5 linked regions of the Homo sapiens genome follow. The protein of the gene in region 5 purifies or fractionates together with the protein of the main gene of each other region. This does not show direct contact. Each region holds a gene or a part of one and is shown on either strand. Other genes may lie near its edges.

What was found.
Region 1: the proteins of ARFGEF1 (region 5) and HTR1E purify together in Homo sapiens (co-immunoprecipitation; one large-scale study listed by IntAct). This does not show direct contact.
Region 2: the proteins of ARFGEF1 (region 5) and TATDN3 purify together in Homo sapiens (affinity purification with mass spectrometry; one large-scale study listed by BioGRID and IntAct). This does not show direct contact.
Region 3: the proteins of ARFGEF1 (region 5) and BORA purify together in Homo sapiens (affinity purification with mass spectrometry; one large-scale study listed by BioGRID and IntAct). This does not show direct contact.
Region 4: the proteins of ARFGEF1 (region 5) and AKAP10 purify together in Homo sapiens (affinity purification with mass spectrometry; one large-scale study listed by BioGRID and IntAct). This does not show direct contact.

The regions. Positions count from the first base shown.
Region 1 is NC_000006.12:86,944,024-86,947,548, forward strand, and holds part of HTR1E (5-hydroxytryptamine receptor 1E), read left to right. Parts: intron 1-3,525. UniProt on the Homo sapiens protein: G-protein coupled receptor for 5-hydroxytryptamine (serotonin). Also functions as a receptor for various alkaloids and psychoactive substances.
Region 2 is NC_000001.11:212,808,879-212,812,403, reverse strand, and holds part of TATDN3 (deoxyribonuclease TATDN3), read right to left. Parts: intron 178-3,525; coding exon of another isoform or gene 157-177; coding exon 76-156; intron 1-75. UniProt on the Homo sapiens protein: Exhibits 3'-exonuclease activities and apurinic/apyrimidinic (AP) endonuclease (in vitro). Show preferential AP endonuclease activity on double-stranded DNA substrates and 3'- exonuclease activity on single-stranded DNA.
Region 3 is NC_000013.11:72,748,408-72,751,932, reverse strand, and holds part of BORA (protein aurora borealis), read right to left. Parts: intron 1-3,525. UniProt on the Homo sapiens protein: Required for the activation of AURKA at the onset of mitosis.
Region 4 is NC_000017.11:19,957,313-19,960,837, forward strand, and holds part of AKAP10 (A-kinase anchor protein 10, mitochondrial isoform 1 precursor), read right to left. Parts: intron 1,260-3,525; coding exon 702-1,259; intron 1-701. UniProt on the Homo sapiens protein: Differentially targeted protein that binds to type I and II regulatory subunits of protein kinase A and anchors them to the mitochondria or the plasma membrane.
Region 5 is NC_000008.11:67,333,782-67,337,281, forward strand, and holds part of ARFGEF1 (brefeldin A-inhibited guanine nucleotide-exchange protein 1), read right to left. Parts: intron 1-3,500. UniProt on the Homo sapiens protein: Promotes guanine-nucleotide exchange on ARF1 and ARF3. Promotes the activation of ARF1/ARF3 through replacement of GDP with GTP. Involved in vesicular trafficking.

The sequences.
Region 1 (3,525 bases), on a different chromosome or scaffold from region 5:
GACAAGCCTCAGGTCCCAGCTGGCTGCTGGCTGGAGACGTTCTTTTGCTACCACATGGACCTCTCTATAGGGCTACTAACAAAACAGAGTGCTTCATGCAGATGTTGCAGCTTGCTGTCCTTGGAGCAAGGGCTAAGATTGAAAGATAGCAAAATAGAAGCCAAGGTCTTTTTGTAACCTGATATCAGAAGTGATATCCCATGGCTTCTGCTGTGTTCCTCATTAGAGACAAGTCACTAGTTTCAGCCTAATTCAAGGGGAAGGGATTACACAGTGGGAGGAATACCTACAGGAACCAAATCATTGAGAGCCACCTGAGATACTGCCTGCCACAATATAAGACATCAGAAGCTGTTTGATAAAGACTCAATTCAGTATCACCTCGTGGTTTTATCTCATAGTAATGTTCTCAGACTGAAATTAGATAATCTGTCAAAGAATTTGTAAAATATAAAGCTCTATACAATATCAAGATTTTATTAGTTTTATTAATGCTGAGAATCCAGTTCCACTTTATAGATAGTGATATAAGAACAGCAAATCAATGATTAAGAGATGTGAATTTTACACCTTGCTGTGTGTGTGACCTTGGAAAAGCCATTTATTTGTTTCATACCTTAGTTCTCTCATGAAAGTGATGATAATAACAGACTTACCAGGATAAAATAGATAATAGACAGCCATGCAGCACATTGACAATATTTTGGTCACCCACAAACCACATATATGACAGTGGTCCCACAAATTATAATGGAGCTGAAAAATTCCTACAGCCTAGTGACATCATCGCTATTGCAATGTTGTTGTAGCACAATGTATCGCTCATGTGCTTGTGATGAGGCTGGTGTAAGCAAACCTGTGCTGCCAGTTGTATAAAAGTATAGCACATACAATTATGTATAGTATATAATACTTGATAATAAACAACTGTTACTGGTTTATACATTTACTGTACTATACTTTTTATCATTATTTTGGGGTGTGTTCCTACTTAATTAAAAAAAAAAAGTGAAAAGAAGTTTAACTGTAAAACAGCCTCAGGCAGGTCCTTCAGAAGGTATCCCAGAAAACAGCATTGTTATTACAGGAGATGACAGCTCCATGCATGTTATTGCCCCGAAGGACCTTCCAACGGACAGGATGTGTAAATAGATACAGTGATACTGATAATCCTGAGCCTGTGTAGGCTAAGGCTAATGTGTCTGTATCTTAGTTTTGTTTGTTTGTTTGTTTGTTTGTTTGAGACAGAGTCTCAGTCGCCCAGGCTGGAGTGCAGCAGCACAATCTCACCTCATTGCAACCTCCGCCTCCCAGGTTCAAGCAATTCTCCCACCTCAGCTTCCTAGTAGCTGGGATTACAGGCACTCACCACCATGCCCAGCTAATTTTTTGAATTTTTAGTAGAGACGGGATTTCACCATATTGGCCATGCTGGTCTTGAACCCCCGACCTCAAATGATTCGCCCGCCTCAGCCTCCCAAAGTGCTGGGATTACAGGCGTGAGTATCTTAGTTTTTAACAAAAAAGTGTGAAAAGGAAAGAAAAAATTTAAAGTTTTAAAAATAGAAAAAAGTTTATAAAATAATGTTATAAATAATGAGAATATTTTTGTATAGCTATACAATGTGTTTTAAGCTAAGTGCTATTACAAAAAGAGTCAAAAAGGTTTTTTTAATTTAAAAGTTTGGGGGTTTTTTGTTTTGTTTTTGTTTTTGTTTTTGTTTTTTTGAGATGACGTTTCTTTCTTGCCTCCCAGACTGGAGTGCAGTGGCGTGGTGATCCCAGTTCACTGCAACGTCCGCCTCCCCAGTTTCAAGCAATTCTCCTGCCTCAGCCTCCCAAGTAACTGGGATTACAGGCATGTGCCACCATGCCCAGCTAAATTTTGTATTTTTAGTAGAGATGGGGATTCACTATGTTGGCCAGGCTGGTCTCAATCTCCTGACCTCAGGTGGTTTACCTGCCTCGGCCTCCCAAAGTGCTGGTATTACAGGCATGAGCCACCACACCCGGCCTAATTAAAAAGTTTATAAAGTAAAAAAGTTATAGTAAGATAAGGTTAACTTATTATTGGAGAGAGAAAAAATGGTTTTTACAAATTAGGTATAGCTTAAGTGTACAGTGTTTTTAAAGTCTACAGTAGTGTACAGTAATGTACTAGGCCTTCATATTCGCTCAACACTGACTCACTGACTCACCCAGAGCAGCTTCTAATCCTGCAAACTCCATTCATGATAAGTTCCCTACACAAGTATCCCATTTTTTATCTTTATACCATATTTTCACTGTACCCTTTCTACGTTTAGATACACAAATACTATTGTGTTACATTTGCCTACAGTATTCAATACAGTAACATGCTGTCTGGCTTTGTAGCCTAGAAGCAATAGGCTATGCCACATAGCCTAGGTGTGCAGTAGGCTACACCATCTAGGTTTGTGGAAGTACACATCTTGATGTTCACACAATGATGAAATGGCCTAACAATGCATTTCTCAGAATGTATGATGCATGGCTATATATAAAATTATGCTGAAATCTAAAAAAATGAGATGATGGTCATAATGACAATGATGAAGATGACTATATGTTTCAGCTTCTACTCCATGGTCCTTTGAGGACAACTGAAGTAACTAGATATGATTTTTGTCAGTTGTGTTTTAAGTGTATGTATCAAATCCAGCTACCCCAAGTTTTACAATAACTTTATATGGTTTAATCTTATCTTGCTGAACACATTAGATATGCTGCCCTGAAAAGTGGCTTGCAAACAGAATTTTTAGAAACTGAACCATAATTAAAATGCACAGAGGCCGGGCACGGTGGCTCACACCTGTAATCCCAGTACTTTGGGAAGCCAAGACAGGCGGATCACCTGAGGTCAGGAGTTTGAGACCAGCCTGACCAACATGAAGAAACCCTGTCTCTACTAAAAATACAAAATTAGCCATGCGTGGTGGCACATGGCTGTAATCCCAGCTACTCAGGAAGCTGAGGCAGGAGAATCGCTTGAACCCAGGAGGCGGAGGTTGTGGTGAGCCGAGATCGCGCCATTGCACTCCAGCCTGGGCAACAAGAGCGAAACTCTGTCTCAAAAAAAAAATGCACAGAGAAGGTTTCCATGTATCTAGTGGAATTGTACAATGCTTATGTGATCTTGTGATATCATTAATATTTTGTAATATAAATAATTATCCTCATTATTTTAATTTTCTGGCATTGTAGCAACACCTGTATAAATATTTATAGTTACTTAAGAACTCACAAAACAACCTTTTGAAGTAGGCAAATAAAACCAACTCTTGGTTATCTCAAAGAGTTCTTTTTGTTTGATTCTTGTGTTATCTACATTTCTTCTCTCACTGTAAATTGGCATAAATTTGGCAGATACAAAACAAGTAAAGTTCAAACTCCTCCACTCAACCACTTTAAGGGATTTTTTTTCCTGCTTATAAGTATATCACATGTTCATTGTAGAAAATTTGGAAATGCAGAAAAGTATAAAAAATGTAGTTAAAGTTACTC
Region 2 (3,525 bases), on a different chromosome or scaffold from region 5:
GAAATACAGCTAAATTGAAAAGAACTCAAATGAAAGATACAATCTAAATAATATAGAAATTAGAAAACCATTTACCTGTTTTTCTGGTCCTAGTGCAGGTGAATCTGTTTCTAAGCATATAGAAGTTAAAGGCAATTGTTTCACAAGTTTCTGCTTCTTAGAGAAAAGAGAAAGCAGCTAAGTTTAAAACATGAGAAATAAAGATAAAGAGCATTAAATTGACATACTAATAATGCATTTTATTCTGCAATAACTTAAAATTTATGCTTTAGGCTGGGCGCGGTGGCTCACGCCTGTAATCCCAGCACTTTGGGAGGCCGAGGCGGGTGGATCACGAGGTCAGGAGTTCAAGACCAGCCTGACCAACATGGTGAAACCCCGTCTCTGCTAAAAATACAAAAATTGCCAGGCACAGTGGCTCATGCTTGTAATCCCAGCACTTTGGGAGGCCGAGGCAGACAGAACATAAGGTCAGGAGTTCAAGACTAGCCTGGCCAACATGGTGAAACCCCATCTCTACTGAAAATACAAAAATTAGCCAGGCATGGTGGCAGGCACCTGTAATCCCAGCTACTCAGGAGGCTGAGGAAGAAGAATCACTTGAACCCGGGAGGTGGAGGTTGCAGTGAGCCGAGATCACCCCACTGTACTCCAGACTGGGCAGCAGAGCAAGACTCCATCTCAAAAAAAAAATAATAATAATAATAAAATAAAAATACAAATACAAAAATTAGCCAGGCAAGGTTGCAGTGAGCCGAGATCACGCCACTGTACTCCAGACTGGGCAACAGAGCGAGACTCCGCCTCAAAAAAAAATTATTTTTTACTATTCAACTGATAGGCCGGTTGTGGTAGCTCGCGCCTGTAATCCCAGTACTTTGGGAGGCTGAGGTGGGTGGGTCACTTGAGACCAGGAGTTCGAGACCAGCCTGGGCAACATGATAAAACCCCATCTCTACTGAGAATACAAAAATTAAGCCGGGGTGGTGGCTCATACCTGTCCAGCACTTTGGGAGGCCAAGGCAGGCTGATCACTTGAGATTGGAAGTTCGAGACCAGCCTGACCAACATGGTGAAACCCCGTCTCTACTAAAAATACAAAAATTAGCCGGGCGTAGTGGTGGCTGCCTGTAATCCCAGCTACTCGGGAGGTTGAGGCAGAATCACTTGAACCCGGGAGGCAGAGGTTGCAGTGAGCTGAGATCGCGCCACTGCACTCCAGCCTAGCCAGAGTGGAAAAAAAAAATACAAAAATTAGCCAGGCATTGTGGTACACGCCTGTAATCCCAGGTACTCGGAAGGCTGAGGCAGGAGAATTGCTTGGACCTGGGAGGCGGAGATTGCAGTGAGACAAGATCACATCACTGCACCCCAGCCTGGGCGACAGAGTGAGACTCTGCTTCAAAAAAACAATTCAATTGATAAATGCTAACTGGATGTTCTCATAATTCCACTACTAAAAGTTATGTTAAAATATAAACACTAATTCCTAAAAATTATCCAAAGCTTCTAGGGAAACCAAAGAATAGTAACCATAGCAAAAATGAGGTATACCCAGCAAGCAGAAATCCAAACATCTGGTATCATGTGCCGACATTGACAAGGAAGTGATTTCTGTTGTTTCTCCACCCTCATCACATTCAGTGTTTCTTTCTAACATCCACTTTAAGGCACTCAAAGCTTTATGTTTATAAATCTAAGGGTTTTGTTTGTTTTTGAGACACAGTCTGGCTCTGTCACTCATGTTGGAGTGGAGTGGCACGTACTCGGCTCACTGGACCCTCCATCTCCTGGGCTGAAGACATCCTCCCACCTCAGCCTCCCAAGTAGTTGGGACTATAGGCACACACCACCACACTCGGCTAATTTTTTTTTTTTTTTTTTTTTTTTTTGAGACAGAGTCTCGCTCTGTCACCCAGGCTGGCGTGCAGTGGCGCGATCTCGGCTCACTGCAAGCTCCGCCTCCCGGGTTCACGCCATTCTCCTGCCTCAGCCTCCCAAGTAGCTGGGACTACAGGCGCCCACCACCATGCCCGGCTAATTTTTTGTATTTTTAGTAGAGACGGGGTTTCACCATGTGAGCCAGGATGGTCTTGATCTCCTGACCACGTCGTGATCCACCCGCCTTGGCCTCCCAAAGTGCTGGGATTACATGCGTGAGCCACCGCGCCCTGCCTTCACTCGGCTAATTTTTATATGTTTTGTAGAGACAGGGTTTCGCCATATTGCCTAGGCTGTTCTCAAATTCTTGAGCTCAGGTGATCCGCAACCCTTGGCCTCCCAAAGTGCTGAGGTCACAGATATGAGCCTCCGTGCCTGGCCCAAATCTAAGGTTCTTATGCAATTTAAATTTTATTTTTTTATTAATTAATGTATTTATTTTTGAGATGGAGTCTCTGTCGCCCAGGCTGGAGTGCAGAAGCGCGATCTCAGCTCACTGCAACATCTGCCTCCTGGGTTCAAGTGATTCTCCTGCCTCAGCCTCCTGAGTAGCTGGGATTATAGGCATGCGCCACCACACCCAGCTAATTTTTGTATTTTTAGTAGAGAAGGGGTCTCACCATGTTGGCCAGGCTGGTTTTGAACTCCTAACCTCAGGTGAACTGCCTGCTTTGACCTCCGAAAGTGCTGGGATTACAGGTGTGAGCCACAGTGCCTAGCCCAATTTAAATTTTAGATTGGGTTGTGGATGGTTTTCTTTTTTCTTTTTTTTTTTTTTGAGACGGAGTCTCGCTCTGTCACCCAGGCTGGAGTGCAGTGGCGCGATCTCGGCTCACTGCAGGCTCTGCCCCCCCGGGTTCACGCCATTCTCCTGCCTCAGTCTCCCGAGTAGGTGGGACTACAGGCGCCCACCACCATGCCTGGCTAATTTTTTGTATTTTTAGTAGTGACGGGGCTTCCCCGTGTTAGCCAGGATGGTCTCGATCTCCTGACCTCGTGATCTGCCCGCCTCGGCCTCCCAAAGTGCTGGGATTACAGGCATAAGCCACTGCGCCCGGCCTAGTTTTTAATTTTTAAAGCTATAATTCACATAACCATAATATTCACTCTTTAAAAGTACACAATCCAGTGTTTTTTGCTATATTCACAAAATTGTACAATCATCACCATTATCTAGTTCTGGAATATTTTCATCACTCCAAAAAGAAATCCCATACCCATTAGCTGTCACTCCCTATTATCCTTCCCCTCAAAATTCTGGAAACCACTAATCTATATTGTGTTTATAGATCTGCCTCACCTGGACATTTCACATGAATGGAATAATACAAGATGTGGTTTTTCGTCTGGTTGCTTTCTCTTAGTATAATGTTTTCAAGGTTCATCCATGCTGTAGCATGACTCAGTACTTCATTTCTTTTCATGACTTTATTCCTCTTCATTCCTTTTTATGACTTTATATTCCATTATATGGATATAGCACATTTTATTTATCCATTCATCAGCTGACGGAAATCTAGGTTGTTTCTACTTTTTGGCTATTATGAATAATGCTGCTATAAACATTTATGTACAAGTTTTTGT
Region 3 (3,525 bases), on a different chromosome or scaffold from region 5:
TGTTACCATTCAAAGGACCTTGCCTTCCATTACTACTTATGTTTTTGCTTTTATTATTATTTTAAACTGACACACAATTACACATATTTATGATGTACATGATATTTTGATATGTTTACAATATGTAATGATCAAATTGGGGTAATTAGCATATCCATTAACTCAAACATTTATCATTGCGTTGGGAACTTTCAAAATCTGCTCTTCAAGCTATTTGAAAATATACGATAAATTGTTAATTACACTCACCGTATAGAGCTATAGAACACTAGAATTACTCCTATCGAGCTGTACTTTTGTATCCATTAACCAACCTCTCCCTATCCCTGCTCCCCCTACCCTTCCCATCCTCTACTACCTACCACTATTCTATACTCTTCTATGAAATCAACCTTTTTAGCTTCCACATGAGGGAGTACATGTGGTATTTATCTTTCTGTGCCTGGCTTATTTCACTTAATGTCCTCCAGTTCATCCATGTTGCTGCAAATGTAAGGACTTCATTATTTTTTATGGCTGAATAGTATTCCATTGTGTATATATACCACATTTTCTTTATCCATTCATCTATTAGTGGACACTTAGGGTGATTCCATATTCTGGCTATTATGAATAGTGCAGCAATAAACACTGGAGTACAGGTATCTCTTTGACATACTGATTTCCTTTCCTTTGGATATATACCTACTAGTGGGATTGCTGGATCACATGGTAGTTCTATTTTTAGTTTTTTGAGGAACTTCCATAATAGCTGTACTAATTCATATTCCCACCAACAGTGTTCAGGCACTGTTTACTTATATTAATCACAATGATCATGCTAATATCCTGTAATCCTATTATTATCCCCATTTAAAGAAGAGGAAACAAGCTGAAAGAAACTGTCACTTTCTGGGATTTATAAAGCTAACAGAGCTGGGCTATAAACTGAAATCTGCCATTACGGTTTCCCAAGCCCATGTTCTTTAATGCCATGCTCGCGCCTCAACTAAATACATTTGCACCCACACCCATCCTGGCACCCTGCCCTCCTTTAAACATGGAGGAGTTACTGCGGCTACTCCTATCAGGGTTCTAGATTCTACCCCCTCTTGCATGCCTCAGTTCCCTCATTTATAAAACAGATCACCATTTGACAGATGACGATATCTATTATATCTGTAAGGTATTACAGGGATTAGCTTCTGACTGTAAAATGCTTGGCATGGTCTCTGGTACTTGAAAAGGACATGTGACTGATACCTATTAATAATTATATTAATAATTATGCTGCCCAACTCCTAGTTTTTAAAAATCTTCTCTCTCTTCATTTAAATGCTGTATGCTGTTTCTTCTGTGTTCCATTACTGGAACACTAAGCATGTGGGAGTTACTTATACCCTGTTGTTCAAGGTCATCGCCAAGGTCTGATTGCAAAAATTCAAAAAATTGCAACCTTAGGCATAAATGGGTTAAGTAAAAACAAAGTAAAAAAGCAAACTACAAAAAGATCTGACTTTGATGCTCTTCTCTAGGTATCATTTTCTTTCCCTTCACAACTAAACTCCAGAGTTATCTACACACGTTATTTCATTACTTCTTCTTTAACCTTCCTTCCATTCACCTTGAGGCTGTTCAGTTATTAATTACTTTTCTTATTAGTCCATTAGCCCCTTTTCAAGCCCAATGTTGCTTGCTCCTATTTTGGCAATGCTAACCATTCTTTCCTGCTTAAAATGCTTCATGACACTGTGCTTTCTAAGTGTCCCTTTCTCCTCTTTGGCTGGTTCTTTTCAGTCTCCTTCAGGGGCTGTACTTCCTTTACCTGATCCCTCTCAATTCTTCCTCAGAGTTCCAAATCCTGGCTCCCCGTTACTCTCAGTAAATACCATCCCTCTGGTTGAACTTAACCTACGTATTCGTTCTGTTTTTGTTACACAAATATTTAATGAGCGGCTATTACGTGACGGGTTCTTTTTAATAAGCACTGGGGATAAAAACATGCATGACTGCTGCATTAGTGGTCTGATTGGAAAGAATGCAAAATGTGCATGGAATCATGAAAGCATATAATGAGGTCTGGCCTGGCTAATGTGATCTGGGAAGGCTTGAGGATGTAATCAATAAGTTGTCAATGAAAAAAATAAATAGGAGTTAACTAAGTAAAATGGGATAGAAATGCTACATAGCATGTGCAAAAAGGCCCTGTAACAAGAGAAAACGTGGCTTTTTAAAACTTTGGAAAGCTAGTGGGACCTAAACAGAGAATGAAGGAAACAAGCTGGAGAGTAGAAAGACCAGCCTTGCCAGCCACATTGCAGACTTTTAAAATTAGTACCGAACGCATTTCAAAAGTGTAGAAAATAAAAAACTCAATAGAAAGGTTATTATATAAACTGGAGGAAATTGCCCAAAAATTCAAAAAAGGAGATTTAAAAAAAAAAAGATTTTTAGAAATTGGAGAATCAAAAGTTGCTCCAGAGAGAACACTAGAAGCAGCAGAGGAGAAATCTAAGATATTATTCAAGAAAAGATCCAAGAAGTGAGGGGAGTAAGTTTACAGACTGTAAGGGCATTCTGAGTGAAGAGTATAATGGATGGAAAGAAACCCGCATTAAAGGACATCACTGAAATTTCAGAACCCTGTAGACAAAGAAAAATGCCTATCCATGTCCAGGGAGTTGGGGATAAAAAGAGATCATAAACAAAAGATTAAGCACTGAAATAGCTTCAGATCTCTCACTGAAATGGAAGCAATGCCTTCAAACTCTGAAGGACATTTCTGAACTCTCAAATGTGAGAGACGGACACATGATCACACATGCAATGTCTTTAGAAATGTACTCTTCCTCAGAAAGCTAGCAGAAAGCTAACCATGTGGCAGAAATGTAATGTATGAAACATTTTTAGTAGACATTATGATGTTATGGCCCAGAGAGTAAAACTGAGACTGCTTGGGGGGTATCACATAACATATTTTTACCCAATAGAAGGAAGAGGTTGTAATAGTAAGAGAAGTTAAAAAATGAATGGAATAGCCCTGCAAGTGTAATTAAGCATAGATAGTTTGACAAGTTAGTAGTGACTACAATTATGGGAGAATATGCTACCCACGGCTTCCAAAGGTTAGTTGGATTAGATGATGATTAAGGTGTATTTCAACAAAAGTATTTTGTAATTCCTCTATATAAAAAAGAGAGAGAGAGAGAGAGAGAGAGAGAGAGAAAGTGAAAAAAGGCAGAGAGTAAAAGCAGCAAACAATGCCTTTAAGGCATATACTTTTAAGCCTATATGTGCTTTTTTCTATTTATGAAACCAACTTTAGAGAAGCTAAAATATGTAAAAGTGATTCTAGTATAATCTTTTTTGAGCAATGAAGCTGTAAGTCAGGATAGGCAACAGAAGCATAAAAATATGAGCAAAATACTATATTTAATTTTGGGTCATTTAGAATCCTTCCCTGAGTTTTAACTTCAGCATGCCAAAACTGACAACACTAAAGCCTTATAGAGTTGGTGTGAGAATTAAATGAATTAATAAAGTGGT
Region 4 (3,525 bases), on a different chromosome or scaffold from region 5:
AGGCGGATCACAAAGTCAGGAGATCGAGACCATCCTGGCGAACATGGTGAAACCCCGTCTCTACTAAAAATACAAAAAAATTAGCCGGGTGTGGTGGCAGGCGCCTGTAGTCCCAGCTATTTGGGAGGCTGAGGCAGGAGAATGGCATGAACCCGGAGGTTGCAGTGAGCCGAGACCGCGCCATTGCACTCCAGCCTGGGCGACAGAGCAAGACTCCATCTCAAAAAAAAAAAGATAATCATGCCTACTACCTGCACAAAGGTCTTGTGACTAATAAATAAAATCCAAATATACACTAAGCACTGAACTTAATAAATGTCACTTATTGGCAATTTTTAAAAATTTTTTAAAAATTTTATCTGCAAAGTGCAGTAAAATATTAATAAAATTAAGACCGAGGGAGGAAATAAGGCTATGTGGATAATGGTTTGATGTCAAAATCAGTGGAGGGGAAAAGTAGGACATTTGACCCTTCATTTACTAATTCTGATAACACACTTCTTAGAAGGTCCAGTCACTCCTGCTCCTTTTCCATACACTGATCTGACTCTACTACACTCTCCAAATTCTCCCAAATTTACAAGTAGTTAGAGGAGAAAAAAAATATTCCAATCATTTTATTCCTCATCTGAAGTTCTGCTTAGTAAATTAAAAAAAGAAAGTGAGACACATATGTACACACAAGAAAATCACATACTCACTTTTCATTAGTTTTCCTGACAATTCTTTTAGTGGAGAAGCGGGACTATTTCTACTGGCTACTGTAAGTGTAGAGGAAGATTCTTGGGTTTCCATGGAAACTTGGTGAGTTCCTGCTCTGGCCATTTCAAGACGGAGAGAATGGGCACTGTCACATTCCTGGGAAAGCAGCAAGTGATTCTGAGTGCTGTTAGTTCTATTATTCAGGTCAATTCCTTCTGAATGAGTCATAAACAACTGTGCTGAGCCAGAATCCTCCAATCTCTTATCAAGAGAATCAGTTAAAAAAGACGCTGTAGTTTCATGCTTTTTAGATGGAGAGACAGGCTCAGCCAGTGAGCTCTGCTTCACTGTGTTTAGACTGTGTGCTCTTATTCGCGACCAAGTTGTTGAATGAAAACTTTCAGCCTCTAACCAAAATTTCACCAAATGCTCCATTCGCCGAAGTTCCATGAATTGAATGAAGTAAGGGAGGACAATAGTGTCGTGCAAGACTTGTTCAAGGGTCTTAGAAAGGCTTGATTTGGTCTCTTGAGTCTGGTAGTCCAGACAAGATCTGCCTAAAAGATAGAAGCAAAAGAATTAGCAGTTCAGCAACAAATAATTTCAGATTGACAGATTAGTCAATCACTTTTAGCAACAACTGGTACCAGAGACCTTGAATAAAGTTTACTTCCTAGCAACTAAAGTAAATAAAAAAACTACAAATACTATGCTTTTGGTTTCTAAACAAAGTACAATCGTCCAAAACTTGCCTAAATTATTAAAAAGTTATTTGTTACTCAATAATTCTCATATCTCTTTTAATGGCAATTCAGACCATGTAAATTCTTTTTTTTTTTTTTTTTTTTTTTTTTGAGACTTTTCACTCTTGTTGCCTAGGCTGGAGAGCAATGGCGCGATCTCGGCTCAATGCAACCAACCTCCACCTCCCGGGTTCAAGCGATTCTCTTGACTCAGCCTCCTAAGTAGCTGGGATTACAGGCACCCGCCACCACGCTGAGCTAGTTTTTGTACTTTTAGTAGAGATTCGGTTTCACCATGTTGGTCAGGATGGTCTCAAACTCCTGACCTTCGGCAATCCACCCACCTCGGCCTCCCAAAGTGCTGGGATTGCAGGCGTGAGCCACTGCGCCCAGCCCAGACTACATAAATTCTTAAGAAAAAAAACTTATGATACTAGTTCCAAAGGGGCCAATAAAAATATTAAAAACTATACTCAACCTCATTAAAAATCCCAGAAAAGCAAATTAACATAAAATGCATTTTTGTCTGTCAAATTAGATTTTTTTCAAAAATTATTAAGCAGTAACAAGGGCACAGGAAAATAGGCAACACTCTCATTCGCTGGTCATGAGGATGTAAACTGGCAAAACCTTTTTGGAGGAGCATTCAGGAACAGATAGCAAAGTCTTAGCAAACTGCATTATTTTCAGTCCAGTAATTCCACTTGTAGGCACTTATCCTGAGGGAAAATTGTGGATATATCTACAAAGATGTTATGAACTCAGCATTATTCATTCATAGTAGGTTAAAGAGTAGCTTTGAGATCGTACCTTGAAAAATGAAACTAAACTTAATAAAAAATCATTTATCTTATATTTAACTAAATTTAAATTATAACCACAAGCTAATTGTTAGGAAAGACAAAAAATTTTTTTAAAAATTGGCTTTCATAGCATGATCATAAAGATGGGCATTCTTATAAAACTGACTGAGGGTTTCATCAATTTGTCAAAAGAGTTCTTCTTAATCCATTGATATTCAAATCATTTTTTTGAAGCACGTCGTGTCTTCATCCTCAGTCTTACTGTCAGTGTCAACTAGTTCATCTTTGTCAACATCACAAACTTGAGGAAATTCTGATCTTCTGTGAGGTTTACAATTTCTTTTAATTAAATTCTATGAGATAATGCTAGATTCACATGAAGTTCTAAGATACAATACTGAAAGGGCCAGGCATGGTCGCTCACGCCTGTAATTCCAGTACTTTAGGAGGCTGGGGCAGGCGGATCACTAGAGCCCAGGAGTTCAAGACCGGCCTGGGGAACATAGTGAAACCCCATCTCTAAAAAAATAATAATACCTAGAGATCCCTTGTACACTTTAGTTTCTCCCATGGTAACATCTTGCAAAGCTATAGTACAATATCACTCTAAGATACTGACAGTGATACAACACTCTAACTTGTTCAGATTTCCCCAGTTTTATCTATACTCATTCTTGTTTTTAGTTCTTTGTAATTTTATCACATTGAGATTTCTGCATCCACTGCCAAGATACAACTTCAACATCACAAAGATCCCTCATGTTGCACTTTTATAACTACACCCACTTACCCCTCTCACCTCCCTGTCTCTAACATCTGGCAAACACTAATCTTTTCATTTCTCTTAATTTCTCTATTTCAAGAATATTATCCAAACGGAATCATACTATATGTAGTCTTTAGGGACTGGTTTTTGTCTGACAGCATAATTCCCTTGATATTCATCCAGGTGGTTAAATGTATCAACAGTTTGTTCCTTTTTATTGCTGAATGGTATTCCATGGTATGAATGAACCAGTTCATTCACCTGCTGAAGAACATCCAGTTTTTCAATATTAAGCTGCTATGAACATTTGTGCACAGGTTTTTATTGGAAGGTAAGTTTTCATTTATCTGGGATAAATACAGAGTGCAACTGCTAGGTCATATGGTAATTGCATGTTTCACGTCATAAGAAACCACCAGCCAGGGATGACGGCTCATGCCTGTAATCCCAGCACTTTGGGAGGCCGAGGCGGGCTGATCACCTGAGGTCAGGAGTTCAAAACCAGCCTGAC
Region 5 (3,500 bases):
ATCTCACGTGATGGGTCACAGTCAAAACACAGTCAAAATTTTGTTTCATGCACAAAATTAACAACAGTGCATAAGACCAGGTGCAGTGGCTCATGCCTGTAATCCCAGCACTTTGGGAGGCCAAGGTCAGCGGATCACCTGAGGTCAGAGTTTGAAACCAGCCTGGCCAACATGGCAAAACCCCATCTCTACTAAAAATACAAAATTAGCTGAGCATGGTGGCGCATGCCTGTAATCCCAGCTACTTGGGAGGCTGAGACAGGAGAATCACTTGAACCTGGGAAGCGGAAGTTACAGTGAGCTGAGATCGCACCACTGCACTCCAGCCTGAGCAACAATAGCTAAACTCCGTCTCAAAAAAAAAAAAAAAAAAAAAGAATAGTGCATAAAATTACCTTTGGATTGTGTATAAGGTGGATGTGAAACATTAGTAAATTTTGTGTTTAGACTTCAATCTCATCCCCAAGATATTTCATTATGTATATGCAAATATTCCAAAGTCCAAAAAAAAAAAAAAAAACAAAATTGAAAACATTTCTGATCCCAAGCATTTCTGATAAAGGATATTTAATCTGTACTTCAAAAAGTTAACAGTGTTTCAATGAAGTAACACTTCATCATAACAACTAGGATGGCTAAAAATAAAAAGGCAGTAACAAATATTGGTGAGAATTTGAAGAAACGGGAAGCCTCATACACTGCTGGTGGGTATGTAGGCTGGAAAAGAATTTAGCAGTTTCTTAAAAAGTTAAACATAAATTTATCAAGTGGCCCACCAATTCCCTTCCCAGTTTGTCTACCTAGGACAAATAACAGTTTACGTCCACACAAAGACTTATACACAAATATTCATGGCAGTATTATTCATTCAACCCAAATATCCATCAACTGGTAAATGGATAAACAAAATATAGGATATCTAAACAATGGAATGCTATTCATCAATAAAAGGAAATGAAGTGTGGATACAAACTTCATGAATGAACCTCAAAAACATACTGAAAGAAACCAGACACTAACGACCACCTGTGTATAACTGCATTTCATGAAATGTCCAGAAAAGGCAACTCTAAAGACAGAAAATAGATTAGTGAATGCCAGAAGCTAGGGATGACAACAAGGGCACTACAGATTTTATTGAGGTAATAGAAATGTTCTAAAACTGGATTTATGCTGATGGCTGCATAATTCAGTAAATTTACCAAAAATCATTACACTCAAAAAAAGTAAATACTATAGTATGTAAATCATTTATCAGAAAGTTGTTTTTCAAAAAGTTAACAGTAGTTATTTATCTTCAGCTAAGAGTATCACGGTAAATTTTTTTTTTTTTTTTTTTTTTGAGACAGAGTCTCACTCTGTCACCCAGGCTGGAGTGCAGTGGCGCAATCTCGGCTCACTGCAAGCTCCGCCTCCCGGGCTCACACCATTCTCCTGCCTCAGCCTCCCAAGTAGCTAGGACTACAGGCGCCCGCCACTACGACTGGCTAATTTTTTGTATTTTTAGTAGAGACGGGGTTTCACTGTGTTAGCCAGGATGGTCTCGATCTCCTCACCTCATGATCTGCCCGCCTCAGCCTCCCAAAGTGCTGGGATCACAGGCGCCAGCCACCACGCCGGGCCCCGTATCACAGTAAATTTTATTGTTGTAGTTACACTTTTGAAAATGATTTGAAGGATTCGTTTATAAAAAATATCAAATTACCAAACTTACTGGAATTATAAAAGCATACAGACTGAGTAAAAGCCATAGAGATTCTCTTCTATATAAAGTGCTTGGCCTTCAAAATATGTACTTTGACTGCTTATATTTTTATTATTTCTTAGCAAAGTTCTGACAGATGAGGATTGTTAAACAGCTGATTAAATGAAGTCTCAATGTACACATTTTTGTTAAGAAAAATTAATAGCCTCACATGGCGTTTCCTAAAGACACGCCAGTGGTAATATGAAATATTTTAAAGATTTTCTTTTTTTTTTTTTGAGACGGACTCTCGCACTGTCTCTCGGGCTGGAGTGCAGTAGCACAATCTTGGCTCACTGCAACCTCCGCCTTCCAGGTTCAAGCGATTCTCCTGCCTCAGCCTCCTAAATAGCTGGGATTACAGGCGCCCACTGCCACCACGCCCGGCTAACTTTTTGTATTTTTAGTAGAGACGGAGTTTCACTATGCTGGCCAGGCTGGTCTCGAACGCCTGACCTCATGATCCACCTGCCTCGGCCTCCCGAAGTGCTGGGATTACAGGCGTGAGCCACCGCGCCCGGCCATTTTAAAGATTTTCAAAGACTTTTCTGAATGAAAAGATAACATAGGTTATATAAACAAATTTAGTTACATCAAGTCTAAGTCTAAGCAAAACAAAATATCAAAAGCAGAACACAAAACTTTTTAAATATTCTTAAATACTTGAGCCCAGACCTTTTAAGAAGCTTTTCAAGAGCCTCTACTTATAACACACTAAAGCCTCAGAATAACTGCTTTCTAGATTCATGAAACAATCAGAGATGAGCCAAAGACAGGATCTGATTGTGTAAACATATGTACAGTAGACTCTGTAAGTGGAAACTTGAATAAAGAAATCAAAATGGGTCTGAAAAGTTAGGATAAAAGGGAACTTGCATTCATTTCCTAAGGCTGCCTTAATAAATTACCATAAATTTGGTGGCTTAAAACAACAGAAATTTCCTCTCATAGTTCTGGTGGCCCAAAATCTAAAATCAAGGTCACAGCAGAGCTATGCTACATCCAAAGGGAAGAATCCCTCCTTGCCTCTTCCTACTTCTGGTGGCTTCTGGCATTCCATAGCATGTGGCAGCAGTAACTGATCTCGTCTCCATTTTCACATGGACTTTTTCCTTTGTATGTGACTGTGTCCCTTCCTCTTCCTTAAAAGGACACCATTCACTGGATTTAGGGCCCACCTAAAGGCTCTAAGTTGAGGATCTCAACTTCACCTTGAGATCTTTCACTACATCCACAAAGTTCCTATTCCAGGAAAAGAACCAGACAAGTGAAAGGCTCATTTCTTTGATAAAAAAACCTCCCTGCAAAAAACCTGACAAGGCAGGCCGGGCGCGGTGGCTCACGCCTGTAATCCCAGCACCTTGGGAGGCCAAGGCAGGAGGATCACAAGGTCAGGAGATCGAGACCATCCTGGCTAACACGGTGAAACCCCATCTCTAATAAAAATACAAAAAAAATCAGCCGGGCGCGGTAGCGCTACACGAGATTAGCTACTCGAGAGGCTGAGGCAGGAGAATGGCGTGAACTCGGGAGGCGGAGCTTGCAGTGAGCCAGGATCGCGCCACTGCACTCCAGCCTGTGTGACAGAGCGTGACGCCGTCTCAAAAAAAAAAAAAAAAAAAAAAACAGACAAAACAAATTGAAATTATTTTGTGTTATTCTCAGTAGAAAATATCCTATTATATCATCTGAAAATTCTATCATTAAAACATTCTAAAATACATATAAAAGGCAGGATGAAAATGTTTTACTGTCT